Homo sapiens: one gene and its partner. The protein of the gene in region 2 interacts with the protein of the main gene of each other region in a biochemical or structural test. Each region holds a gene or a part of one and is shown on either strand. Other genes may lie near its edges. The genes, in order: SIRT1 and RPS19BP1.

Region 1 (10,667 bases), on a different chromosome or scaffold from region 2:
GTGGACGTGGATAAGGCACACAGTTAATTCAGGGACGGTGGAGTCTTGGTACTTGCTCTTTTTCCCTGACCTTGCTTTGGAGTTATTTTATTTTTTAAATTCTGCATTTGGCATGCTATTATCACTTGCTTACTATTATAGGTCCTATTTTATCTGTTGCCTAGCATATTCTCATAGTGCCTAAAATACTCTAAAAGCTATTTCCAGAGGGAGCTTTAATGAGACATACAATGCTTAATCTCTCAAATGTAAATGTACTAGAACAAAGCATTCTGGGGAAGAAAACAGTGGTTGATTTAACTGAACTCACTTTTCCAAAACAGTGGCTTTTGATTTTCTGTAAACATTGACTTTATTAAGCTTTTCCCTTGCTACTATATGCACTCTCTATTTCTTAAATTGCAAAGAGTTATTCATGAAATTTGTGATAAATATTTGAATCTAAGGCAACGTTTTTGGATTCTTTATACGAGGTTTTTAGCAGCATGTGTACATGTATGTGATAGCTGTTAACGGAATTCACTTAAGTTTTACTTAGAAGCCTGGGTAGTAGAACCTAGAAGTTGCAGTGGGAATTTTTTTTTAATTTGAAAGATTAAATAGGTAAAAAGTCATCTTTAATCTCTATTAAACTTTTTTGTATAATGTCAGAAGTGAAAGTTCCCCACATCTGCTTACAGCCTGTTTGTATCCTTCCTGACTTGATTGATTAAATGGACATCTCTATATACATATGCATATAATTTCAATTTTTGCTTAGTAACAAAAACAAAAGTTACACATACTGGTGACTAATTTGCTTTTTTCACGTATGTCATGAACCATTTTCCAGGGCAGTTCATCTAGATCTCCCTCAATTCTTTTTAATGGCTACATATTCCACTATTATGGATGTACCATATTTATACAACCGGTTCCCTATTGATGGACATATGGTTGTGTCTAGTTTTTTGCTAGCATTGTGATAGATTAGAGCCTGTAATGAATGGTAAGGAAGTAAGTAGATGATAGCACTACTACTTTGAAGGAAAAAGTAGAGAATAAACTTCCTTTGCCATAGTCACTTACTAAATGGAATTTAATAAAAACACTGTCAAAAGTTGGGAGGACCAAAATTGATACTTTTTCTCTGATCTTTTTGCCATGTGTATATCTGAATTCTTTGTTTTTAAAGAAGAAACAGCATTGAAGCATTATTTGGGGGGAAAAACACACACACAAAATCCAGCAACTCAGCATTCATGAGCAACTCTATACTATACCAGTATGTGCCTGTGCAGTGGAAGGAAAACAATTTTGGTAAGGATTAAAACTTTAGCTTTAAACTTCCAGCAGGTTGATATTCTAATGAATGATAAATCAAAAAAAAATTTTAAATATTCTTGTATTGACAGTGCTTTTTTTTTTAAATCACCCTACCTTGATATCTGTAATTTTAGTTTAAACTTTCCCATTTTTCTTTAAAGAAAAAAATCTGAATTTGCAGCCAACAAAAATTAGATATCCTAAGGTTGTATTACTTCTGACTTTTATTAAAATATCAACATTTCTTAGAGATGTTTATGGGCCGACTTTGTCTTTTTCTTCAAGGGGCCAAGTTCACTAATTGCTGAGTTTTATGCATATGACAGCAACCGTCCTTTTGTAGGTGTGTGTCGCATCCATCTAGATACTTTAAAATGCTCATCTATTTCATTTTTAAAATTATGTGTGTGGGATTATCAGTATTTTTTTGTTAAACATATGACATCTGTAGTTTATTTCACTAATGTAAATTTTTTCTACCATTTGCTTGATACAGGAAATATATCCTGGACAATTCCAGCCATCTCTCTGTCACAAATTCATAGCCTTGTCAGATAAGGAAGGAAAACTACTTCGCAACTATACCCAGAACATAGACACGCTGGAACAGGTTGCGGGAATCCAAAGGATAATTCAGTGTCATGGTTAGTAAACTTCAGAGTGGTTTTCTGTAATTTATTTTAGTTTTATAGGAAGATATTTCCTATAAAGCTGACTGCCATCGAGAAGTGGAGATAAAGCATTATTTAATCATGTTATCTCATTTATCGATAACCTCAGAAAAGTAGAAAACAAAAATAATAAAAACAGAAGTATTGGCCTTGACAGTTAATTATAGAAAACCTCAGATATTAATTTGCTTTTGATTTCAAAAGATGCTGCAGTTGCATGCATTCAATTATTTTAAATAATCTTTTCTGGCTGAGTGCAGTGGCTCACGCCTGTAATCCTAGCACTTTGGGAAGCCGAGGCGGGCAGATCCCATGAAGCCAAGAGTTCGAGAACAGCTTGGCCAACATGGTGAAATCCCAACTCTACTAGAAATACTAAAATTAGCCGGGCATGGTGGCAGGCGCCTGTAATCCCAGCTACTCAGGAGGCTGAGGCACGAGAATCACTTGAACCTGGGAGTTGGAGGTTGCAGCGAGCCAAGATTGCACCATTGCGCTCCAGCCTGGGAGACAGTGAGACTCTGTCAAAAAAAAAAAAAAAAAAGAAAAAGAAATTCTGAATACAAGAGTAGTATTAGCTGTTAATGAAGAAATGTGACATCTTTAGTTTATGAAACTAAAAGAACTGGATAGTTGAGATGTACAGGATTCAGAGATTCAGAAATGTTTAAAACAAGTATCAACAGGCCATTAGGTATCTAAAGTGTTTCTAAGAACTGCCGAGCTAAGGTAATAGAGTTGGAACTGTCCAACTCTGCAGGATTTTAGCCCTGGAGGAGTGAGCTGTTACAGTTTTGTTGAAAAGAGTAGCTTTAGAAGGCATCATTATATTAGTGTCTCAGAGATTGAGAATCATATTCATTCTATGTATAAATATATAAATTCTTCATCCCCTAGATTCTCCTGTAGTATATCACAAAATCTGCAGTGTGTTCTGAGGTTTAAAATCAAAGTTAAAAACAAAAACAAAAATCCTTAAACCCTCTTAACATTTGTGATGTTAAACTTTATAACGTTTGTGGTGTGTTCAAGAAACAGAAATACTTCTTTAATAAAGCATATATATGTTGTTTGTTTTTAGGTTCCTTTGCAACAGCATCTTGCCTGATTTGTAAATACAAAGTTGACTGTGAAGCTGTACGAGGAGATATTTTTAATCAGGTAATTTGTTGCCCATATTTTAGGAATTGTTCATGTCTCTGAAGTATTTCTTCTTTTGCCTCAAAATCCTTTTTTACCCCTTTAAAGTATATATGGTACAGAAAGATTCAGGAAGAAAATAGTTAGCATTTGGGAATTTTGGTAAAATACACGAGAACCTTTCAATACCTTATATAGAAAACAGCCCTATAAAGGCTCTTCAAATTATGAAATTGGCTTCTTAGTATCTAAGCCGAACATAAAATGTCAGATCATAAGCAAGTTGTTGTTGTAGTAGTTTTTCTCCTTCCTCTCCCTTTTTGTGCCTGTCAGATTTGGACCTTAAATTAGTTATGGTAATCTAAAATTATTTCATACATGTTCATTGCCAAAAAATATAGGAAAATTTGGCAGAAAATAAAAATTATCCAGAAATATGTCCTGTGTGCTTAGCAATATATGGAGGTAATCATGTCATTACGAAAGAGGAAGAATAGTATATTAAAATGGAGTCATTGGTCGGGTGCAGTGGCTCATGCTTGTAATCCCAGCACTTTGGGAGGACGAGGTGGGTCGATCATTTGAGGTCAGAAGTGAGACCAGCCTGGCCAACATGGCAAAACCCCGTCTCTCTTAAAAATACAAAAATTAGCCTGGCATGGTGGCATATGCCTTTAATCTCAGCTGCTTGGGAGGCTGAGGCAGGAGAATTATTTGAACTCGGGAGGTGGAGGTTGTAGTGAGCTGAGATCATGCCACTTCACTCCAGGCTGGGCAACAGAACAAGACTCCATCTCAAATAAATAAAATGGAATCATTTTATTTGACAAATGTCTATTTTTTTTTGAAAGGATCAATTCCCATTTAGTGTATATACACACATTATGTTTTTCCTCTTAATATATGATGGACTCTTCAATGTCAAGTGTTTTTCTACATAGATATTATAACAAGAGCATAGTATTTCATTGTTTCATAGTATGTTAATAAACTACCCATCATTGACAGTTGCTGTTTATCCATAGCTTTTCTGTTTTGTTTTTTTTTTAATAATTCTGAAATGTATTCTTAGAGGTATGGAAATGTTGACTATTTCTAACTTGGGCTTACTCTTTGCTTCTCTACCTCAACCAAAATCTGAAAATATGTAGGTAGTTCCTCGATGTCCTAGGTGCCCAGCTGATGAACCGCTTGCTATCATGAAACCAGAGATTGTGTTTTTTGGTGAAAATTTACCAGAACAGTTTCATAGAGCCATGAAGTATGACAAAGATGAAGTTGACCTCCTCATTGTTATTGGGTCTTCCCTCAAAGTAAGACCAGTAGCACTAATTCCAAGTAAGTTGGTGATGGTTTTTGGAGAACATTTCTATATATAATGTCATGGGTTGTGGGTCTGTATAATAGACGCTAGTAATCTTAACTCTGCTTCTGTTTGAAAGAGTGGTGAAGAGCTAATTTTAGAAATTGTTTGTTTGTTTGTTTATTGAGATGGAGTTTCCCTCTTGTTGCCCAGGCTGGAGTGCAGTCGCATATCTTGGCTCACTGCAACCTCCGCCTCCCGGGTTCAAGCGATTCTTCTGCCTCAGCCTTCTGAGTAGCTGGGATCACAGGCGTCCACCAACATGCCTGGCTAGTTTTTGTATTTTTAGTATAGACCGGGTTTCACCATGTTGGCCAGGCTGGTCTCGAACTCCTCAGCTCAGGTGATCCGCCTGTCTCTGCCTTCTAAAGTGCTGGGATTACAGGCATGAGCCCCCATGCCTGGCCAGAAATTCTTTATTTTTAGTAGAGATGAGGTCTTGTTGTGTTGCCCAGGCTGGATTCGAACTCCTGGGCTCAAGTGATCCTCCTGCCTCAGCCCCTTGAGTAGCTAGGATTACAGGCACGAGCCTCCACATCTGGCTGAACTGTTTTTTTAGGTGGCATTGTTCATTGAGACTGGTGAATCTGACATTTTGATGGGGGGTGGAGGGTTGTCAAAACGCAAGTAATGTTGGTGGCTCGTGCCTGTAATCTCAGCACTTTGGGAGGCCGAGGTAGGTGGATCGCTTGAGGGCAGCAGTTTGAGACCAGCCTGGCCAACATGGTGAAACCCTGTCTCTACTAAAAATACAAAAATTAGCTGGGCATAGTGGTGTGCACATGTAGTCCCAGCTACTTGGGAGGTTGGGGCATGAGAATCGCTTGAACTCAGGAGGCAGAGGTTGCAATGAGCCGAGAATGTGCCACTGCACTCCAGCCTGGGTGACAGAGTGGGACTCTGTCTCAAAAAATCAAAAACAAACCCAGAAGTAATGCTAAACTCTACTTCTAATTTATGTGAAAAATTAAGACAAAGGTAGAGTTCAACTTAGACTTTTTGGTGGAATGTGTTTTTAATGTTGCAAGGGTTAGCATCAATTAATTTATGAAATGGTCCTTTATCCTTATATTTTTTGATTACAGTTTTGATCTTTCAAATTTAATTGATTTCACATTTAATAAATTCAAATGTATAGTTTGGTAGAAGTGTAACATACCATGTAAGATGGAATTTGGGGGCTCAGAATGATTGGTTCATTCTTGTAGTAACAGCCATGCCATAACGGTGATATGTCGATATAGTTTACCCAAAAGGGTGTGTATATAAAAGTGTTCACATAAAATTTAAATCCTTATTACTCTCAGGAAAATTTCTTTGTCATATATATTCTCATACTGTCTGTTTCCTCCTCTAGTTTAGAATCAGAGGAGGAGAGAGAGAGATTTCAGTTGCATCAGATGTGTCCTTTCATAAGTGAGGGAAAGAGGAGAGGAAAAATATTAAATCCCTAGCCAGAGAATTGAATTAGACCCCACATCAGCAGTCAAGGCAGCCAGAGTAAACAGTTGGAAGAAACATGGAGTCAAGCTCTTCAATTTTGTGTCTATCCCATATCTCGTGGCTTTAGCAGTTAACTCAGTCTTACCTAATTAGCTGTGAAATTCTGTTAAAGTAGAATACAAGACAATTTGCAATTAAATGAAACATGAAAATTTAATATACAAATCTCTTTGTTCTTGAGTTGCTCTTCTTAAAGCAAAATCAAAGGCACTCTGCTTAAAAGCTTTTCTTTTTATTTTTTAGAGACGGGTGTCTTGCTGTAGCTCAGGCTAGAGTGCAGTGGTGCAGTTTCAGCTCACTGCAGCCTTCAACTCCTGGGGACAAGCAGTCCTTCCACTTCAGCTTCCTGAGTAGTTAGGACCAGAGGCGCACACCATGCTTGGCAAATTTTTAAATTTTTTTTTGTAGAAACGGGATTCACTTTGTTGCCCAGGCTGGTCACAAACTCCTGGCCTCAAGTGATCCTTCCTCCTCTGCCTCTCAAAGCATTAGGATTACAGGCATGAGCTACCATGCCTGGTCCTTAAAAACTTTTCTTTCAAAAGCTTTCTGTGGGATAGTATGATGTGTTGCAAAGATAATTAAAAAAAGAAACAGGTTTATAATAGCGTAGAATATGTTTATATGACTTTTTCCCTCCCCCCCTCCCCTCCCTCCCTCCCTTCCGTTTGTCCTTCCTTCCATTCATCCTTCCTTCTGTTAGTCCTTCCTTCTGTCCATCCTTCCCGTCCGTTCTTCCTTCCTTCCTTCGTCCATCCTTCTGTCTGTCCTTCCTTCCGTTCATCTGTCCGTCCTTCCTTCCTCCCACCCTCCCTCCCTCCCTCCTATCCTCCCTCCCTCCCTCATTGCCCAGGCTGGAGTGCAATGGCATGATCTCGGCTCACTGCAGTCTCCCGTGTTCAAGCAGTTCTCCTCCCAAGTAGTTGGGATTAGAGGCATGCGCTACCACACGCCCGGCTAATTTTGTGTTTTTAGTAGAGATGGGGTTTCACCATGTTGGTCGGGTTGGTCTTGAACTCCTGACCTCAGGTGATCCGCCTGCCTCGGCCTCCCAAAGTGCTGGGATTACAGGCGTGAGCCACTGTACCCAGCTCACCTTCTTTATATCAGGAGCTACTTAAGTAGAACATTTATGTACCAAGAACTCTTCTGTGCACTTGACTAACTCATTTAATCCTCACCACAGTCTTGTGGAGAAGTACTATTATCATCCCCATTCTGCAGACAAGGAAATTTGAGGTTCAGAGTGGGAAAGTCTGGGAAGATTGCTCAGGGGTAACCAGGTGATAGGAGCAGAACTTGAGCGTTTTATAAAAGACACTTAACTGCCCATCTGCTTGCTTGATGAAATGTAATGGCTTGGTTAAGTATTTAGTGCATGGGTCTTTTTTGGGAATTTGGAGCTCAAGCCCTTGTTGGATTTTTGCATAATGTATCTGTTGTGGTTTTATTAGCTTACTTCCTCCTCCCTTTTTCTAACTCTTATTTTTCACCCTATTTTAGGTTCCATACCCCATGAAGTGCCTCAGATATTAATTAATAGAGAACCTTTGCCTCATCTGCATTTTGATGTAGAGCTTCTTGGAGACTGTGATGTCATAATTAATGAATTGTGTCATAGGTTAGGTGGTGAATATGCCAAACTTTGCTGTAACCCTGTAAAGCTTTCAGAAATTACTGAAAAACCTCCACGAACACAAAAAGAATTGGCTTATTTGTCAGAGTTGCCACCCACACCTCTTCATGTTTCAGAAGACTCAAGTTCACCAGAAAGAACTTCACCACCAGATTCTTCAGTGATTGTCACACTTTTAGACCAAGCAGCTAAGAGTAATGATGATTTAGATGTGTCTGAATCAAAAGGTTGTATGGAAGAAAAACCACAGGAAGTACAAACTTCTAGGAATGTTGAAAGTATTGCTGAACAGATGGAAAATCCGGATTTGAAGAATGTTGGTTCTAGTACTGGGGAGAAAAATGAAAGAACTTCAGTGGCTGGAACAGTGAGAAAATGCTGGCCTAATAGAGTGGCAAAGGAGCAGATTAGTAGGCGGCTTGATGGTAAGAAAGGCAGTCGGACCATTTTGAAAGTATAAATGTCATAACAGTATTTCCAAAAAATTAGCTATTTCGGCAGGTTAATCGATAGGGTAGCTTTATGTAGTTGATTCTGTTTAGAGAAACTGTACAGTTCGTAATCAGAAAGGTAAATCTTCTGGTATCTTAACATGATATGGAGAAGGAAGTGTTTAATAGTGCTCTGTATGTTGTGTTTCTCTAGGGGATGGAAAAATAAGAATGGGTTATTAGCTGGCAGAAATGATGACAGATTTGAGTGCTTACTGTAGGTCAGCTGCTTTACATATGTTACCTGATTTTAATCTGAGGTAGGAACTATTACTCTTCTTCAGGTGGGAAAACTCAGGACCATAGAGGTTAAATACCTCATGCACAGTAACTACTAAGAAGTGGAAGAACCAGATTAAAATCCAGTCTATTTATGCTTAGAGCCTGCCCCCTTAACTACTATGCGGTGTTGTCTCAGATGTAGAACACATCTTTGTTTTCTCTGAGGACTTAGAAAAAACACGCGTGATTCTTCTCCACTGAATATAGGAATAGTTTCTACCCTGTTTAGAACATGCATAGTCTTTATCAATAAGTGTTAACTGACATGTGAAATCACTTTCTACTCTTTGGAAGCCGATGTTTTAAGTCCAAGTAGTCTGTATGGTGGAAATTCCTAACTTATGTTAAAAAAAAGAAAACCACTGTAACTTAGCTATAACAGTCTTATATAACTTAGAACTTTAAGTCTCATTCCATTTACCATACTTGGCGAAAACTGACAAATTTTAGACAACTGTATTTGAGTATTCCAGTCATTTGCTGTAAATACATTTTAGTTCAGTTGAATAAACCTTTGGCCTTTTTCATATTAGGCACTGTGGTAAGTTATGGAGACACAGTGATTAATGTTGTGTATAATTATAAATGTGAGTGATACTCATTAATACTTTGGTATAGGTGCTGCTGAAGAACAAAGTACTTTATTATTGTTTTGAACAAAACATCACACAAAAGGTAGATTTTTTTTTTTTTTTTTTTTTTTTTTTTTTGTGACGGAGTCTCACTCTGTCGCCCAGGCTGGAGTGCAGTGGCACGATCTCAGCTCACTGCAACCTCTGCGTCCCAGGTTCAAGAGATTCTCCTGCCTCAGCCTTCTGAGTAGCTGAAATTACAGGCATGCGCCACCTTGCTCGGCTGATTCTTGTATTTTTAGTAGAGACGGGGTTTCGCCATGTTGGTCAGGCTGGTCTCAAACTCCTGACCCCATGATCCATCCACCTCGGCCTCCCAAAGTGCTGGAATTACAGGCGTGAGCCACGGCGCCCAGCCCCAAAAGGTAGATTCTACTTGGAGATTAGATTACAGAAGGCTTTCTAAGGAGCAAAATATTTAACAATAAGTAGGGATTTAAAAAGAGCAGACGTGTTCACAGGGGAAACTAGAAAAAGCATAGAGGGATGCTTACGTTTGCAAATCGTGGCAGAAGTCAGAAAGTAGAAAAATTGCTACTGACTTAGATACACAGTTGTCTCTAGCGTATACAAAGTCTACCTATGCACTAAGACTTGCACTGGGAACTTTTCTTGAATGTCATTTTGACAGATGTGTCAAACGGACAATCTCTTTGCCCAGGAAACAGAGTTAACCTGGAACAGTCATTTTTTTTTAAATTTATTTATTTTTTGAGACGGAGTTTTGCTCTTGTTGTCCAGGCTGAAGTACAATGGTGTGATCTCGGTTCACGGCAACCTCCGCCTCCCGGGTTCAAGCGATTCTCCTGCCTCACTCTCCAGAGTAGCTGTAGCTGAGACCACAGGCGCATGCCCTCATGCTCAGCTATTTTTTTTTTTTTTTTTTTTAGTTTTTGTAGAAACAAGGTCTTGCCACATTGCCCAGGCTGATACCAAACTCCTGGGCTCAAGCAGTCTGCCAGCCTTGGCCTCCCAAAGTGCTGGGATTACAGGTGTAAGCCACTGTGCCCTGCCTGTGGTGTCTTGGGAAACTCATGAGTACTATGTGTCTGTTGTAATAGAGGGAAATAAGTGGTTTTCACAGTGATTTGTAGTGGACTGTGAAATTTTAGGGATTCAGGTCAGAGTTGTCACACAGGTTGTAGTCAGGGTGAGAACTGGGTCATGATGCAGTATGAAAAAGTTCGAGAGCCACTTTGGAGAGAACTTGAGATAGGCCACCTACCAGTGTGGTAACCAGGCTTTTGAGAATTCGTCTGGGATACGGTACAATAAATACTACATCTATTATGTGTGAAGAGATGTTAAGTTAGGGACATACTGTGAATTCAAGGATAGAAAACTTTTCCATCAGTTTTTAGGGATCCTACTCTTTCACTTAAACCCCAAATGGCCAAGCTAGGATTGATTTGGTGTGCTGTAGAAAGAACTTCATTGGTATTCATGGATTCACATTACATCTTAGAGGAGTTTTCAAAAGCGTCTTAGACTGTATGTGTATATACACACACATTCTGAAGCAGTAGGTGGGTCTTGGGGCCTGAGATCTCGGGTGAATGTAAATTTAGGTTCACAGGTGATACTGTAGATTCACAGTGTCTACAGAGTACACTATGAATTTGTGGTGACTACATTATTGACAAA
Region 2 (16,168 bases):
GGGTCGGCCCTCATTTGGCAGACGAGAAACTGAGGCACCAAGAAGGGCAGTGCAGGCCAGTGGTGTGGAGCCAGGATGCTGGGGCTGTGCCCTTCCCAGGCCCCTGCAGCTAAGTCCTCCCACACCCAGAAGGCACCAGCTCAGGTCACAGTGGATTTGCCCTTCTCCCTGACCTCACCTCCTCCCCTCACTGTGCTCCCGGCCTCTCTCCATCTGTCTGCCAAGCTTGGTCCTGCCTCAGAGCCTTGCACTTGCTGTTTTTTTGTAACTTTTTTCTCCATTGAGTTTATCTGTATACAGATGAACTTTCTGTTCTCCATTCCCTAACTACAATATAAGCTCACTCTATGGCAGCAGGTATTTTGCTGTCTTGTTCATTCCCGTATTTCCAGGACTTACAGCAGTGCCTGGGAAATAGCAAAAATGACTGCAGCGAAAATGTTCAAAGAGCTCTGAGGTTCTAGGCGCCTTCCAGTGATGAGCTCAGAGTCCTCCTGAGAGGCTGTGAGGAGGGTCTTATGACTGTAACCCTCTTACTGATGCAGCTAAGACCCAGACTTAGGCACCCCCTTGGGAAGTCTGGCCTATGGGTGGACACTGGCCCATGGGCAGGTGGTATAGGCAGTGATAGTGGCCTGGACAGACCGGCTGGATTTGGCTAGGCAGATATCTGTTCCGGAGAGCCCAGCACAATAAGGGGTACGGGAAGAGGGGGCAGAGATGAAGTTGATGTCTGGCCACCACCCTGCATGTGGCAACTTGTGGCCCCTGCCAGGCCTTGGCCAGCCCAGCCTAGGCTGACCAGGTCAGAGGTGGAGCTGGGCTTTACCCAGTGACCAGGGGCCCGGGGCTGGGGGATAGGAAGGGACCTCACAGGCGGGAGCAGACAGCACTCAGCATTTTCTCCTGCTTTGTGTCTGGGACAAGGCTGTAGGTTGTGGAGAGCAGAGAACGACCTTCATCTTTTCTACAACTAGTCCTGAGTGGGTGCCTGCTCTGCACTACACTGTCTGGGTGCTGGCTACAGCAGTGAGCCAAATAGATAAACATCCCTGCCCTCATGGAGCTTTGCTTCTGGTAAAGGAGACAGGTGGACCCTAAAAAGAAGAAAGAGGTGACGTGTCACATTCAGATGTGACACAGCAGCTGGGTAGGGCTTGGACATGCTGGGCATGCTCCTTAAGACTGGTGCTTAGGGAGTTGCAGGGGTCAGCCCGGCAGGGGACTGGGCTGGGATTGGCAAGGAGAGGCGGCCAGGATATGGGTGTGAAGAGAGGGAACCCCCCCGCTGCCAAACAAGAGAAAGGATGGAGGGCCCATTTCCTGAGATGGGGAAAACCATGGGAAGAGCATGATTTTATTTCAAAGAGGCCAGGGAGAAATAAAAAGTCCCTGGCTTTGGGAGGCCAAGGCAGGTGGATCACAAGGTCAGGAGTTCAAGAACAGCCTGCCCAATATGGTGAAACCCCTATCTCTACTAAAAAATTAGCTGGGCATGGCGGCACGTGCCTGTAATCCCAGCTACTCGGGAGGCTGAGGCAGGAGAATCGTTTGAACCCAGGAGGCAGAGGTTGCAGTGAGCCAAGATCACGCCACTGCACTCCAACCTGAGTGACAGAGTAAGACTCCCATCTCAAAAAAAAAAAAGAAAAAAGAAAAAGCCCTTGCAGTGACACTCAAGTGCCAACCACCCTTGCCCAGGTGCCCCATGAGGTGGGGTGGGGGCTCTCAGCCTAGTTGGGAAACGGAAGGTGGATGCTTAGACCAAGTAGAAAGTGGCAGCTTCAGAAGAGAGAGCAGGGCCTCCCAGCTGGGCTTTGAGGGGTGGGGAGAGTTGTGGACAGAGAATGAGAACACCCCATGAAAGTCAGCCGGGCAGGCTGGGCGCGGTGGCTCACGCCTGTAATCCCAGCACTTTTGGAGGCCGAGGTGGGCGGATCACGAGGTCAGGAGATCGAGACCATCCTGGCTAACATGGTGAAACCCCGTCTCTACTAAAAATACAAAAAAAATTAGGTGTGGTGGTGGGTGCCTGTGGTCCCAGCTACTCAGGAGGCTGAGGCAGGAGAATGGCTTGAACCCAGGAGGCGGAGCTTGCAGTGAGCTGAGATGGCGCCACTGCACTCCAGCCTGGGGGACAGAGCGAAACTCCGTCTCAAAAAAAAAAAAAAAAAAAAAAAAGTCAGCCTGGCAGGAAAGAATGGGGCACACACCAAGTGCCACAGTCCCACTGCCTGTGGCGGAGGCCTTTGCCCAGGCTAAGCTCTGAGCCTGCAGCTGGGCCTCAGCAGAGTCCCATGTTGCAGTCCTGGCCCACTCCTGCCTGGCCCCCTTGGCCAACTCCTCTAGTAGCAAAGAGGGCCAGAGAGTGTGGGGGCTTGAGCAGCCCATCCCACTGTGGAAGACACAGGAAGCCATGGCTGGGGCCCTCCTCTGGGTCATGGGGTGGCTTCCTCAAACCCTGCTTCCCCAAACCACCTGTGACGCTTCCGGTGCTTTCATACCCATCCATGATGTCTAGACTGAGGGAGGCCTCCTGCTTTGTCCTGTCGGCCCTGGGTTGAAGTGACAACTCAGTGTCCTCTTTTTTTGAGACAGGGTCTTGCTGTCACCCAGGCTGAGGTGCAGTAACGCCATCTTGGCTCACTGCAGCCTCTGCCTCTCGGGTCCCAGTGATCTTCCCACCCCAGCCCTTTTCCCCACAAGCAGCTGGGACCATGAGTGCACACCACCATGCCCAGCTAATTATTGTATTTTTTTTGTAGAGATGGAATTTTGCCATGTTGGCCAGGCTGGTCTTGAATTCCTGACCTCAGGTGATCCACCTGCCTCAGCCTCCCACAGTGCTGGGATTACATGTGTGAACCACTATGTCTGGCCTCAGTGTCCTCTTATTTGGGCCCTGTTGGTCACCAGGTCCTGGCCATCACAGCACCTCTTCGGCCCCCCATGGGGACAAACCCTCTCTCCTCCAGTGCTACCCCAGTCACCCCAGCTCCCTGCTGCCTTCCAGACAGCTGCACCAGAACTGCTCAGGGTGACAGTTAAAAGGCAGACTCCTCAGTGTCCTGTCCTTGACCCACTGGACCAGAGTGCCAGCAGTAAACACAAATGACTGTCACCCAGAGGGGCATGGACAGGCACCCAATAGTGTTATTTGGCATTAAGTGTAAGATTTATGGGGAAGCTCACAAGTGGGGAAGCAGCAGGACCCTGGCTCCCATCCTCCTCGTGGGACAGTGCCTGTCACTCTGCACTCTACACAGGGAGGGAGCAGGAAGAACACCTGGGCGATTATGTAACAGTGGGCGTGTTCTTGTTAGAAAGGGGCCCTGGGCCTATGGTCAGCCTGTTCTTCCAGGCGCTAGAGGCTGAGTTGGCTTTTTGTTAAGCCGCTTAAAATATTAAGGCCACTAGTCTCCACGGATATCCAAGTTTCTCTGCCCAGTGGGGTCATTACAGCCCAGCAGGCAGGAAGAGGCCCTGGTCTCTAAGGTTTGGGGTCACAGCACACTCCCTCCCCATCCCCCTGCTGATGGAGGTCGCCTGGAGACAGGACCTGACTCCAGCTCTGCCCCCGGAAGATGTGTGGCCCCCTCATGTCCTCATTTAGGATGGAACACGGTTAAAGACCAGGAACAGACCACCCAGGGCAGTGGGGGAGCAAGTGCTGTTACAAATAACAGGCCCGAAGGCAATGTCGTCAGGGAACCCAGGGAGCCAGATGTCACTCCCATCAAACCCAGCCTCAGGGGACTGCCAGGCTCTCGACCAGCAGCAATGGGAGTCACCACAGCAAAGGAGCCCTTAGGCTATGGTGGGGAGGAGAGAGTTTAGGAGACAAAAGCAGCTGCCTGAAGGCTTCCCAGGTCCCTTCCCCTCAGGCCCCCTGATGAAAGACTCCTGGGCTCTCACTTCTCACCTCTCCTCCGCTGGCCCTGCCTCCGCTTCCGCCTCCTGTCTTCACTCACACAGTCATTCAGTGCCTGCCTGTCCTTCACCTCCTGATCCCACCCCATGCCTGCTGGAAGGGTCCCGCCTGCCTCCCCTCGCCTCCATCCTTCAGCTCAGGCACACCTGAGTGTGAAACCGTTTCTTCAGGTTACCTCCTGAGTCCTCTCTACTGTCCCCTCCCCACTATGACAGGCATTTGACCCCACCTGGCTGCTCACCAGAGCATGAGCCAGAAAAGGAACACACCGGGTGAAATGCTCCGCTCATGGCGGACTCCACGCTCCCCGGGCGCAGGCGGAAGTAGCAACACTCCCACTGCCGGACCCAGCCACCTGCACTGGAACTGCTCCCAGCAGCTATTTTTGCCTCAAGAGTCACCTTTTCAGCTGTGGTGGCCATCCCCAGAGGAGGGAGGCGCCCCTGGCAGCAGAGGTGGGTGTTCTGATGGCTGCCTGCCGGGGCTGGACTGGAGGACTTGTGACCCGGAGCTCAGAAGCACGCTGGGAGATGGGGAAGGCAGCGTGGCGCTTTGGTGCCACAGGAGATGGGAGACACCCTGTGGGGCAGACCAGCAGCAAACACAGCTCTTGGGTTCACATTTATTGTAACTTGGAAGCCCACCCTTCTTCCTACTCCTGGAGCTGTCGTCCCCAAGGGCTCAGGAATTAGCCTTGCTCCACAGCAAACAGCCCAGAGGCCCCACCTGGGCAAAAGCAAACAAAACAGATACGTTCCTTTCCGGCAGGTGCAGATGCTCTGCCCAGGCCTGCGGAAGCCAGCTCCGGTCTGTGTGTAAATCCTCCCCAGGACTTCCGGCCCACCAGCTCCATTCCAGCCTCCACTCGGCTCAGCTCCGCGGCTTCCTCGAGCCAGGCTGGTCCTGCATCGCCATCTGCTGGCCGCGCGGCACGGCCGGTTCCTGGAGCCAGCAGGAGTCGGAGGCTGCAGGGCTTGAAGGCCTCTTCACCGTGCCCTCCAGGGAGCCTAGCTGCCGAAGTATTCCTGCTGGAACTTCTGGAAGTCTTCCTCGGTGAACACGGTGCCCTCAGCCTTCTTCTTCTTGGTCTTGGCCACAGGCCGGTCACAGGCCTTGCGGCCCCGGTTCTGGCGCAAAATCTGGCGAGGGTGCGGGACCGAGGGCCCATCATTTCAAGAGCAGAGGAGGCCCGCAAAGGTCACAGGGGAGTTCGGCGCAGGGCAGGGCTGGCCCAGCCTCCCACCCTATGCTCAGGGCTGAGACCGCCATGGGTCCCTAGGGGAACAGCCTCGGCTCTCACCTCCCAGGTCCCTTCCTATAGTACCCTCGACCAACCTGCTGGCTCACAGACTCAGCCACGGTGCTTCTCGTCCTGGTCAGAAACTTCAGGTTTACTCTGAGGTGGTCTCGACACTCTCGCTTCCGGTACTCGTCTGTGGGTAGCAGGCAGGGAGCACCATTTCAGATTCACTCCCCCTGGAACCATTCTCAGTCCCTGGCCCATGGCCCTGCCAAAGACCTCATCGTTCCCTTCCCAGGTTATTACAGCGGCTGGGCTCTTCTCCATCAAATGCATTCTCCACACAGGTCCTGCTGAAAGCCCCAGGCTCTTGGCCCCCACCCCCATTTTCCAACAATTATGTCCTGAATACTACTCACCAAGGGAGCTACTCTGGAGCTTTCGCTTCAGTGAGAGATGAAGGACAAAGGACCCAGTATTTTAGAAGCGCAAACATTTCATGGAGAAAAACAAAAGAGGAAACAGAAAAGGGGAATTCCAGGGGTGGAGGGTGCAATTTCAAATAGGAGGGAATGAGAAGGTCTCACTGAAATGACTCGAAGAGAGCTGTGGATATCCGGGGAAAGAGCATTTGTCTAGGTAGAGGGAACACCCAGTGCAAAGGCCCTGAAGCAGAAATGTGTCAAATGTGTTTGAAAAACACAAAACAGCTGGAATGGCTGGGTGCGGTGGCTCACACCTGTAATCTCAGCACTTTGGGAGGCCGAGGCAGGCAGGTCACCTGAGGTCAGGAGTTCGAGATCAGCGTGGCCAACATGGTGAAACCCCGTCTGTATTAAAAATAACGAAAATTAGCTGGGTGTGGTGGTGGGCACCTGTAATCCCAGCTACTCGGGAGGCTGAGGCAGGAGCATCGTTTGAACTCGGGAGGCTAGAGGTTGGAGTGAGATGAGACTGCACCACTGTACTCCAGCCTGGGTGACAAAGCAAGACTCCATCTCAAAAAAAAAAAAAACAAACCAAAAACAACAACAAAAACAGCTGGAGTAGGGGGAGTGGGTAGCAGGAAGAGACCAAGTTTGGCTGGGGGTGGGGGTAGGTCATATAGCCCTTGTCAGGCACCCTAAGACCGCCACCTTTTAGTGACTACAATGAGAGCCACCCAGAGGAAAAACAAGGAATGACTTCTGATTTTACACGATCACTTTGGTTGCTGTTGAGAACAAGATTACGGGGGGAGGGGCATGTGGAAGGCAGGAGACCGGCTAGGCTTCTGCAATAATTCAGGCAAGAGACGATGCAGCTTGGAGCAAAGTGGCAGCTGCAGAGGTGTTCTTTCCATTGGCTGCGAGGCTTGCCATTCCTCTCACTCAGCATCTATGTGCCAAAACCTGTGGTGGACACCAAGGCTGCGGACAAGCCCAAGGAGGTGTGTGCCTTTAGGAGCTTCCATCCAACAGGGGAGGTGGGTGAGCACCCAGGACACGACAGTGAGACAAGGGCTGGGACAGATGGGAATGACCTCTGGCACTCCACACTCCTGCTTCATGGCAAGTATCGCTGGGGCTCAAACCTGTCTCACTTTCCTGCCTCCAGACTTTGGCTTAAGTTGTATTTCCTCCTTGGAATTCATAATTCTTTTAACAAATACTTTAACATCTTTTATGCATTAGACTCTAGGGATTCAGACACAGTAAGAGCTTGCCACGTCCTGACACATGTCAAAATATCACCATCTTGCCTACACCAGCCCCTCCGAAAGTCTTTATGTCTATTAAGTGACACTACGTCCCCCAAGAAACTAGGCTCCACCTTCACAGCCAATTCACCACTAAAACCCCTCTAAAGGCTGAAATTCTCTGCTGCCCCCTCTTTAACATATTTTCCACCTGCACAATTCTCTTGTTATCTCTGCTGCTATAGCCACTGCCCAGGCCACAGCATGTCCTATTTCAATGGAGTAGGTAATAGCAGCACTCTGGAGACACAATGCCCGGGCAGCCACAATGCCTGTACCACCTGGGCAGGTGCCTTTTTCTGAATCTGTAAAACGGGGGTGATAGTAGTATCGACCTCAAAGGGCTGCTGTAAGGATCAAACGAGCTTACATTTGTACAGCACTTAGAATCAGCACCTGGTACAGAGTGTTAGTGAATGTGTTTAAATGCTCCATCTTTGATCCTCATTCACTAGGTCACCTTTACCAGCCTTTATTTTTTCAAATTCTCAAAGGCAACAACCTCCTTTCTGACTCAGGACCTTTGCACATACTATTCTTCCTAGAATATTCTCCTACTTTTCACCTAGCTCACTCTTATACATCCTTCAGCTCTCGGCTGAAATGTCGCTTCCTCAGAGAAGGCTGACTTGGCCTAAGTCCCCATCAGAGTACCGTAGTCTTTTAATTCATAGGCTTCAATGCACTTAGCAATGACACACTGGGTTTGATATTCTTTGATGCTTCTCTCCCCACTAGGGCCGTAGTCCACGAGGACCAGGACGGTGGCGTGTTCTGTCACCTTCGTATGTCCAGGGCCCCGCTCCGCGCCTGGCACACAGTAGGTCTAGCAATACCGGGCGAACGCTTCAAGCCCTGCCTCAAGCGCCACCTCCTCTGGGGCGCAGGTCCCAGCACCGGAGGCAGCACTTTCAGCCCCTTCCCGAACTTACCCAGTGCCGACTTGGGCACCTTTCCCTTGGCCGAGTTCCGCAGTTTCTGGGCCTGAATTGCCTTCGTCTTCCGGGGCCGTTTCACCGGAGCCCCTCTCGGCTTGGCCTGACCTGGAGGGTCCCGGGGGGCTGTAGGGGAAGAGAGAGGAAGAGACCCAGGTCAGAGGGCGCGCAGCGTTCCCATGCCACTGGGGCTAAGCCCGGCCTGGATTGTTTTCCATCCAGGGCTCCCGCCCGCAGCCACTACCATCCTCCTGCCCGCGCCGGACGTCCCCTGGCCAGCCCTCCTCACCCTCGGACGCCGCCAGCAGCTCCAGGCCCCGCCGCAGCAGGGCGGCGGACATGGCGGCGCTTGGCTCCGCCCACGAGCCTCACACTACTTCCGACCTGGCAGTCCCTGTCGTCTCGGCGGAAACCCGAGCCCGAACAGAGGGATCCGGAGGGGGATGGGCGGAAGTGCCCATCTTTCTTAGGACGCATGCGTTAGGGGTTTACACTTGAGCGGAAGAAGGGGCGGAAACTGGAGGCGGGTCCAAGGCGCAGAAAGACACATGTGTTACTCAATCCCAATCTACCTGGCTCCTGGCGCTCAGTCCCCTCCTTCCCCGGAAGCCGTCCGCAACCTGCTCCGCCGGGTTGGCCAATCCTCTCGGGTCTCGTGGCTCCGTGGCGGGCTAGGATGGGGACAGGGCGGAGTGTTTTTCATATACTTCAACCAGCACTAGGTATCGCACAGGTTGAGTGCAGCATGAGAATCCAGTTGTCTTCCCTTAAGCCAGACATTAAAGACATATCTTTGTTTTGAAAACTACAATTATTTCTCATAAAATACGTTGTTTATGTTACCAAGCAATGGGTTTATTGTCATTTTAAGTGAATTAATGAATATGTAAAATTTTTGTTTTAGTTTCTAGTATGGCAAATATCAGTTGCCTACATACAAAAGTTCTTTGGGATCCTGAATTTTTTAAAATTTATTTTATTTAATTAAATTAATTTTTTTTTTGAGACGGAATCTCGCTCTGTCGCCCAGGCTGGAGTGCAGCGATCTCGGCTCACTGCAACTTCCGCCTCCCGGGTTCAAGCGATTCTTTTGCCTTAGCCTCCCGAGTAACTGAGATTACAGACGCCCGCCACCACGGCCGGCTAATTTTCTTTTTAAAAAATTTTTAGTAGAGACGGGGTTTTGCCATGTTGGCCAGGCTGGTCTTGAACTCCGGACCTCAAGTGATCCGCCCACCTCAGCCTCCCAAAGTGCTGGGATTACAGGAGTGAGGGGATTCTGAAGTTTTAAATGTAAGAAGCTTCTTAGACCAAAACATTTGAGCCCCTCTGGCCTAGAAGTGACACTGCTTACCTGGGGGAGGAGCCCTGGGCTTGTTCGCTGCTCCATCTGCAGCTGGCAGCCCAGCACCTGGCATGGAGAAGACACGCAATAAGTGAACGGTGAATCAGAAGGGACCACTGGGTTCACTCAGCCGGGTTCTGAGGGCCTTCTGTGTACTTGACACCACAGAGTGTGGGACCTGGAGTTCGTCCTCCGGGATAGACCACACCGTTTAAGCTCCATCGGCTAGAGAGTAATAATAACAACCAACACAAACTCAAGCATTTGTGCTGTTCTACGTGCTTTACATTTGTTAACTTGTTTATCCCCCCTACCCTTCCAGGTAGGAATTGTCTTTTGCATTTTACAGACGAGGAAACAAACACAGAGAGGCGAAGGTCACACGGGTGGAGTCAGGGGTGGGAGTTAAGACTGGCAGCCTGGCCGCAGGATTTGTGGGGGCGCTCCTGTCCCAGCCACCAGGGAGAGCAGTGCTGTGGTGCTGGGTGGGGCCTGTCAAGCCATGGGGTCAGGTAGGCCCCTGGAGGGTGAGGAGGAGCTGACCATGTATGGGCAGCGGGGATTGTTCTAGGCGGAGACCGCTGTAGCGAGGACCTATCCCCTGTGACACACGAGTGGCCCTTCAGGATGCCATGCTGGGCTGGAGGGTCGCAAAGGCCTCAGACTCCATGATTTTGTCCTAAGGGGAGTGTGGGGCCTGGAACCCAGTGACTGTTCAGACATATGCCTCCTTCCTGCTTCTAACATAGCCGGATTGTTGTCTTACTTATTATGTGTATTGCGTATTGTCTGTTTCCCCGCCCATACCCCACTGTAAGCTCCGCAAGGCAGGGATCTTTGTTTTGTTCATTGTTATATCCCTAGCGCCTGGAACAGTGCTTGGCATACGGTAAGAGTTCAGAAACGCACGAAATGAGTGGATGAGAGCTGAGTTTGGGACGCCAGTGAGCCGCTGGGTTGAGGCCCAGGAGGTCGTGGGATGTGCAGCGAGTCAGCCTCTCAGGAGGGCAAAGGACCAAGCTCTGTCCTCCTCCCGATCTAGGCTGAATCAGCCCACGGTCCCCCGGGTGGAGGAGTTTTCTGCCAACGTGCCAGGTGGACCCCTGCAGCGTCCGCAGCCCAGCCGGGCACGGGCGGGACGGCAGGCCAGGCGCTGCCCCAGCCTCCCGCGGAGTTATCAGCACATCCGCGGGGCCGGGCGCATTTCTGCCAATAGGTGGCGCCGCAGGACAGCTTTCTCACGCGGCGAGACTCCAAGGCCTCAGCTGCGCCCACCCGGGCTAGGTGGGGGTGGGGGTCCGGACGTCCTTCTGCCTCGGCTGGCTCCTTGCAGCCAGCACCGTGTGGCCCCGGCTTCCTGCTGTCCCGCACCCCCTCCCACTCTCACCCTGGCCTGGAGGAGTGGCTGGGGAAGCTGAGGCAGAGCCACCAGGCTGGGCTGCCCAGGGCGGGGGGCGAGGTCCCTTCCTGAAAAGTGTGCAAATGACAGCTGGGAGCTGTGTGACCCCAGCAATCCCTTAACAAAGAGTGCCTCAGTTTCCTCATTGGTTGGATGGGGCTTGGCAGGGCAGCATCCCCCTTCTAGGAGAGGTGTGAGAACCGGTGGATCAATACCGTGCCGTGTGGGCCGGGCCTGGGTGGGTCTGCGCCCAGGGACTGCGTGTAGAGGGTGCTACAGCGCTGCCATGCTACCTGCTCCCTCTGGGCAAGACGGGATGGGCAGGGGCAGCCACTGTTGGGCCCAAGCAGATCACCCCACAGCCCGCATTTGGGCACCTGCGACCTGCCAGTCTTGACGTTGGCCCTGATGGGTCAAGCTGGGGGAGGGGGAGGGGGGTTGGGCAGCTGCTTCCTGTCTCCCTGTGGGAGGGCGGGTCATGAGGTCTCCCAGGCTAGTTCCCCACCTGGCATGACCCTGGATGAGCGGCTTCACTGCTCTGAGCCTGTTTCCACACTGGGTCCCTGCCTGCCCCTGATCCCCGCACTGAGGCTTTTGGCCACACAGAGGAACCATCGCCATAAAGGGCCCTTCGGCCCCCATGCCCTATGTCTCCTCCCAGGCTCCGTGAAACAGCTTAACTACCCTGGGCCTGGGAGGCTGAGAGGCAGGTGGCTTTCTGCAGGGCTGTGCAGCCCTTCAAGAACAGAGTCAGGACTCAAGCCCAGGTCTCCGGGTCCTAAGCAAGAGTATGTGTGTGGCCCCCAGGGACCAGTGGCCCCCTGGAGAGGGGACCGTAGGGTCTCTGGGAGGTGAGCAGTTCTGGAGAGGGTGTCCTGGTGGTCTGGGGCTGGCACAGATGCCCCGGTTTCCACAAGGCCTCGGCTCACACAGCTGTGTGTCCACAGGCAAGCCGCCCTCCCTCCCCTAGCCCATTTCCTCTTCCGAGGTTTTGGGGGCTTTAGAGAGTATTGTCCAGTCCTCCATACAGGGCCGAGGCGGGAGGCGCCCGGAGCTCCTGGCTCCTGTGGTATGAAGGGAGCACTTGCTCCAGAGCCAGGCTGTACATCCTGGCTTTTCCACTTACTAGCTGTGTGACTTTGGGCAAGTCCCACAACCTCTCTGTGCCTCGGTTTCTTCGTTTATGAGTTGACTATGATAATAATCCCTACCTCATAAGGCTGCTGTGAGGATCGAGGGTTGAGCATTTGGAATTCCGTTGGACGCAGAATAAGCACTCTAGTTTGTGAATCAGTGATTGCTCTGTGGACAGCAGTGTGCCGGTGGGACCTGGGCCCCCATCTGTGGGTGTGACCTGCACTTGTATGTCGCCTCTGGATTTCCACACTCTTGTGCTCACACACGGTTAGGTTGGAGGCCACAGGGAGTAACACCTGACAGCCTGGAGTCGCTGATTCCCGTTCAGACGCCGCCTTTGCCGCTTAGCAGATGTGTGACCTGGGCACCTACCTCACCTTTCTGAGCTTCGAGGGGGCGCTTGGGGTCTGTTGGAGGTGCAGTGAGGTGGCATGAAATGTGCTCAGCACCAGGCCTGGCATTTATTCATCTGTGCAGTCAATAAATACCTGCTGATACCACTGACGGAGCAGCCAATAGGAGAAAAACCAGCCAGCATTTGCTGAGCGTGAACCAGGAGCTGCTCCACGTGCAGGAGGCGGGCATTGGGGTGAATGAAGGGCTCCGTTGGGCCTGGCGGTGCCCACATGCTCGTGTTACACTCTCAGCAAGTGTGAGTCTCTGTCGTCCAGGGTCTGCAGGGTTCAGGGTGGCACCCACCAGTCCCAGGGACAGCAGCCCCCTCAGGGCATCCAGGCAGAGGCCAAGTGGCTTCTTTCCAATCATGTGAATGGTGAAATAGTGGCATGCCTGATTTTAAGGGTATAATGAAGACACAGAAGAAGCTACTGGAAATTATCCATGGAGATATGGGGTCAGCCAGTAACCCCCGGGTGGGGGTCAAAGGTGGGGTCTTTTTAATGTCTCCACCCTGACCAGCCAAAGATGCGGCTCTGCCATTAAGCTACTGTGTGAAGTTTTTTTTTTTTGTTTTTTTTTGTTTTTATTTTTTTTTTTTTGGAGAGCAAGTCTTGCTCTGTCCCCCAGGCTGCAGGGCAGTGGCGCGATCTTGGCTCACTACAACCTCCTTCTCCTGGGTTCAAGCGATTCTTCTGTCTCAGCCTCCCGAGTAGCTAGGATTACAGAGGCCCGCCGGTGTGCCTGGCTAATTTTTGTATTTTCAGTCGAGACAGGGTTTCACCATGTTGGCCAGGCTGGTCTCGAACTCCTGACCTTAGGTGATCTGCCTGCCTTGGCCTCCCAAAGTGTTGGGATTGCAGGCATGAGCCACCAGTGCCTGGCCTGCTGTGTGATCTTGGGTACATTCCTCCCAGTCCCTGGAGAAAGATGGGGCGGAGTCCCCAGTCCTGCCAGGTCCCCAGGGCCACTGAGATGTTAAGAGGTTACAGGAAGAGGAAAGGGTGAGCTTGGAAGACTGAGGGGAGAACTTGGGGGCCCCTTAGCAAGCAAGCACCCCTTCCTCAAGCCAACTTGTACCCAAAGACCTTACCAGTAGGTTGGGGTCAGATGGGAGGTCCTTAGGCAGAGCGGATGTCACCTGGCTCTGGGAACTTGACCTCGCTGTAAGATCTAGAATAAGTCCCTCCTCTATTCTGGGCTTTGCTATCCCCATCTGGGCAGTAGGGACAGACATAGCACTTTGTCGCAGAGAAAATATCCCTATAGGGCTTTGGGAGAGGAGGGCGTGGGGAGTGGGTGGTTCTGGGGCCTCAAGATCTCTGTGGTGGGGGTTCTGGCTCCCAAGGGGCTAGAATGGGGTTGGGGAGAGTTCTGTCCCTTCTAATCTCCGTCCTTTAATTCTAATTATGTCTCCATTAAAATGCAAATTTCCAACCAATACCCTTGGAAGGGAGGCCCTGTTGTCATAGCAACTGGCGTCTGTGGGGTGGTTGGGGAGAGGAGCAAGTCTCCATCTTCTGATCCTTCCAGACCAAGCTGGGGCCTGCCCAGAAGCCCCTTTCCTCCCCAGCTCAGAACTCTGAGCATCTCATCCACAGCTTGGGGGGCTCCTGCCCTGAGGCCATGTCTTCAGGGAAAGGGAGCTGGGTAACCATGCACAAATCATTTCTCCTTCTTGGCCTCAGTATCCCTATCTGTGAATTGGAGATAACAAGTCCTCTCTTGCACGCCCGTCCTGGGGATTCAGTGAATTAATGTATGAGCCATCAGGGAAGGGAGTCTGCCTTCCAATGAGGTTCCCGGGAACTCCCTGAAGCCAAGGCCTGGAGGCCTGGACCGCTCCCTGTGTGGGGTCAAGGCTGTCTCCTGCCTTCAAGTCCTACTCCCTGCTCCATCTGTGGACAAGGAGCCAAAAAGATGGTGTAGGACGTACCTTTAAGGCCTATGTAGACTCATTTCTTCAGGCTGAAGCTTCCATCCTGCTAATCATGTAACCATTTAACTTTATGCTGTTCTTTCCTTGCAAGTTGGATATGGATACCTAGAAAATGGGGAGGGGGTCTTTCTTCTCCCAGCGGATCTGAAAACAAGGGAGGATAAAGAGAAGAAATTTTAAGAAGGGAAAAGACAGCTGGCAAAAGAAGCAGCAAGAGGTGAATATGTGAGGCCTTTTTGCCTCTGCTGGTAGGAAGCTCAGGTTGGAAATTATTATTCAATTGTCCTAAGTGTAATTTATTACATGACTGTATTATATCCCTATATTATTCAGCTCTAATAAACGTTCATGTCAACTTTCTAGTACATCTAGCTCATGCCTATTCCCTAGTGGTTTCTGATCTTTTATTTCACTTAAAAAATCCTCTTTAGAAATAGCTGAGAGTATAAATTATAAATTAGCAATTATGACAGAGAGAGAGAGAAAGAGAGAGCATGCACAGCTGTTCTGTGCAGACCTTTCAGCCCCTAGGCTTCCATGATTGTGGCCTTATACTAAGTGCCAGGAGGGGAAGGATATACGCGGTCTTGTTCTGTTGCCCAGGCTGGAGTACAGTGGTGCGATCTAGGCTCACTGCACCTTCTGCCTCCTGGGCTCAAGCAATCCTCCTGCCTCAGCCTCTGGAGCAGCTGGGACTACAGGTATGCACCACCACACCTGAATAATTTTTTTTTTTTTTTAGTTGGAGTCTTGCTCTGTTGCCCAGGCTGGAGTGCAGTGGCATGATCTTGGCTCACTGCAACCTCTGCCTCCTGGGTTCAAGTGATTCTTCTGCCTCAGCCTCCAGAGTAGCTGGGACTACAGGTGCGCGCCACCACGCCTGGCTAATTTTTGTATTTTTAGTAGAGATGGGGTTTCACCATATTGGCCAGGCTGGTCTTGAACTCCTGACCTCGTGATCTGCCTGCCTTGGCCTCCCAAAGTGCTGGGATTACAGATGTGAGCCACCTTGTCTGACCCACACACGGCTCATTTTTGTATTTTTTGTAGAGGTGGGGTTTCACTGTGTCATCCAGGCTGGTCTTGAACTCTTGGCCTCAAGTGATCCACTGCCTTGGCCTCCCAAAGTGCTGGGATTACAGCTGTGAGCCATCACACCCAGCCCAATTTTGCATTCTTAACATTGAGCTGGTGAGAATGCATCCCATCAAGAACAAAGGTGAGCCCCTGCCTCTAAAAAAATTAAAAAAAAACCCCAACTATTGTTGTATTAAAGTTCTGAGATTTTAGAATTTTGATAGCATAGCCTAACATGTACTGACTAATACATCTTCCAGTTCCCCTCGTGACAGTCCCCCTTGATCCCTCTGGGAAGCCAGGCTGGGGCTCTGGCATGGTCTGTATCACAGGAGGGGTACAGAGGCACAATGAGGAGCAACAGGCTTTGCCACAGTTTCAAAGTCACATGCTCACTCAGTCTTCCAAACCATTCCCCCTGTGGGCTCAGCCTTCGAGAACACAAAGGACTAAGAAGCCTGCGCCTCAGCCTCTCCACTTCCCTGGCCAGGAGCTGAGCCTTCTTCCAGGCCCTGGGGTTTCCTCAGCCACAGAGGAATCCACACCTGGGGATCATGAGGTCGCTGGGAGGTGGACTTAGAGAAGAATGAGTGTTGGGGCTTGGGCTCCCTACCGTGTACTAGGTGCCAGCCTAGGACAGTCCGCCCCTCTGGGCCCCCTTGGCCAGCAGAGAGAAGGTGCAAAAGTGTGCTCCTGTTCACCCTGCATGGTAGAGCTGAGCGTGCAGGGAACAGGGCCTGAGGAGGTCAGGGGGACTTCCCTGAACCCCAGAGCTCTTGGGTAGGTGTGTTCGGAGGGCTGCATCTGTGTGAGGTGCCCTGGACCAGGAGGCAGGATGTGGCCAGAAGGGAACTGTAGGAGCTCAGAGGAGAAAAGAGAAAAGAGTTGAACACTGGACCAACAAACTCCACGAAGACCCCCAACAGGGGGCCAGTTCAGTCCATTCCAGCCCGTGGTATCCAACCCAGGAGATGCTCCCTGAGTCTCCATTTTCTGTCCCTCAGGGCTGGGCTTTGGAGACACAGAAAAGA

What was found.
Region 1: the proteins of RPS19BP1 (region 2) and SIRT1 form a complex in vitro, tested with the Homo sapiens proteins (2 studies listed by BioGRID and IntAct).

The regions. Positions count from the first base shown.
Region 1 is NC_000010.11:67,904,989-67,915,655, forward strand, and holds part of SIRT1 (NAD-dependent protein deacetylase sirtuin-1), read left to right. Parts: intron 1-1,174; exon of another isoform or gene 1,175-1,266; coding exon of another isoform or gene 1,267-1,299; intron 1,300-1,801; coding exon 1,802-1,949; intron 1,950-3,057; coding exon 3,058-3,137; intron 3,138-4,267; coding exon 4,268-4,454; intron 4,455-7,485; coding exon 7,486-8,043; intron 8,044-10,667. UniProt on the Homo sapiens protein: NAD-dependent protein deacetylase that links transcriptional regulation directly to intracellular energetics and participates in the coordination of several separated cellular functions such as cell cycle, response to DNA damage, metabolism, apoptosis and autophagy.
Region 2 is NC_000022.11:39,524,554-39,540,721, forward strand, and holds RPS19BP1 (active regulator of SIRT1), read right to left. Parts: upstream 8,196-16,168; 5' UTR 8,186-8,195; coding exon 8,134-8,185; intron 7,971-8,133; coding exon 7,842-7,970; intron 6,002-7,841; exon of another isoform or gene 5,911-6,001; intron 5,365-5,910; coding exon 5,267-5,364; intron 5,071-5,266; coding exon 4,939-5,070; 3' UTR 4,540-4,938; downstream 1-4,539. UniProt on the Homo sapiens protein: Part of the small subunit (SSU) processome, first precursor of the small eukaryotic ribosomal subunit.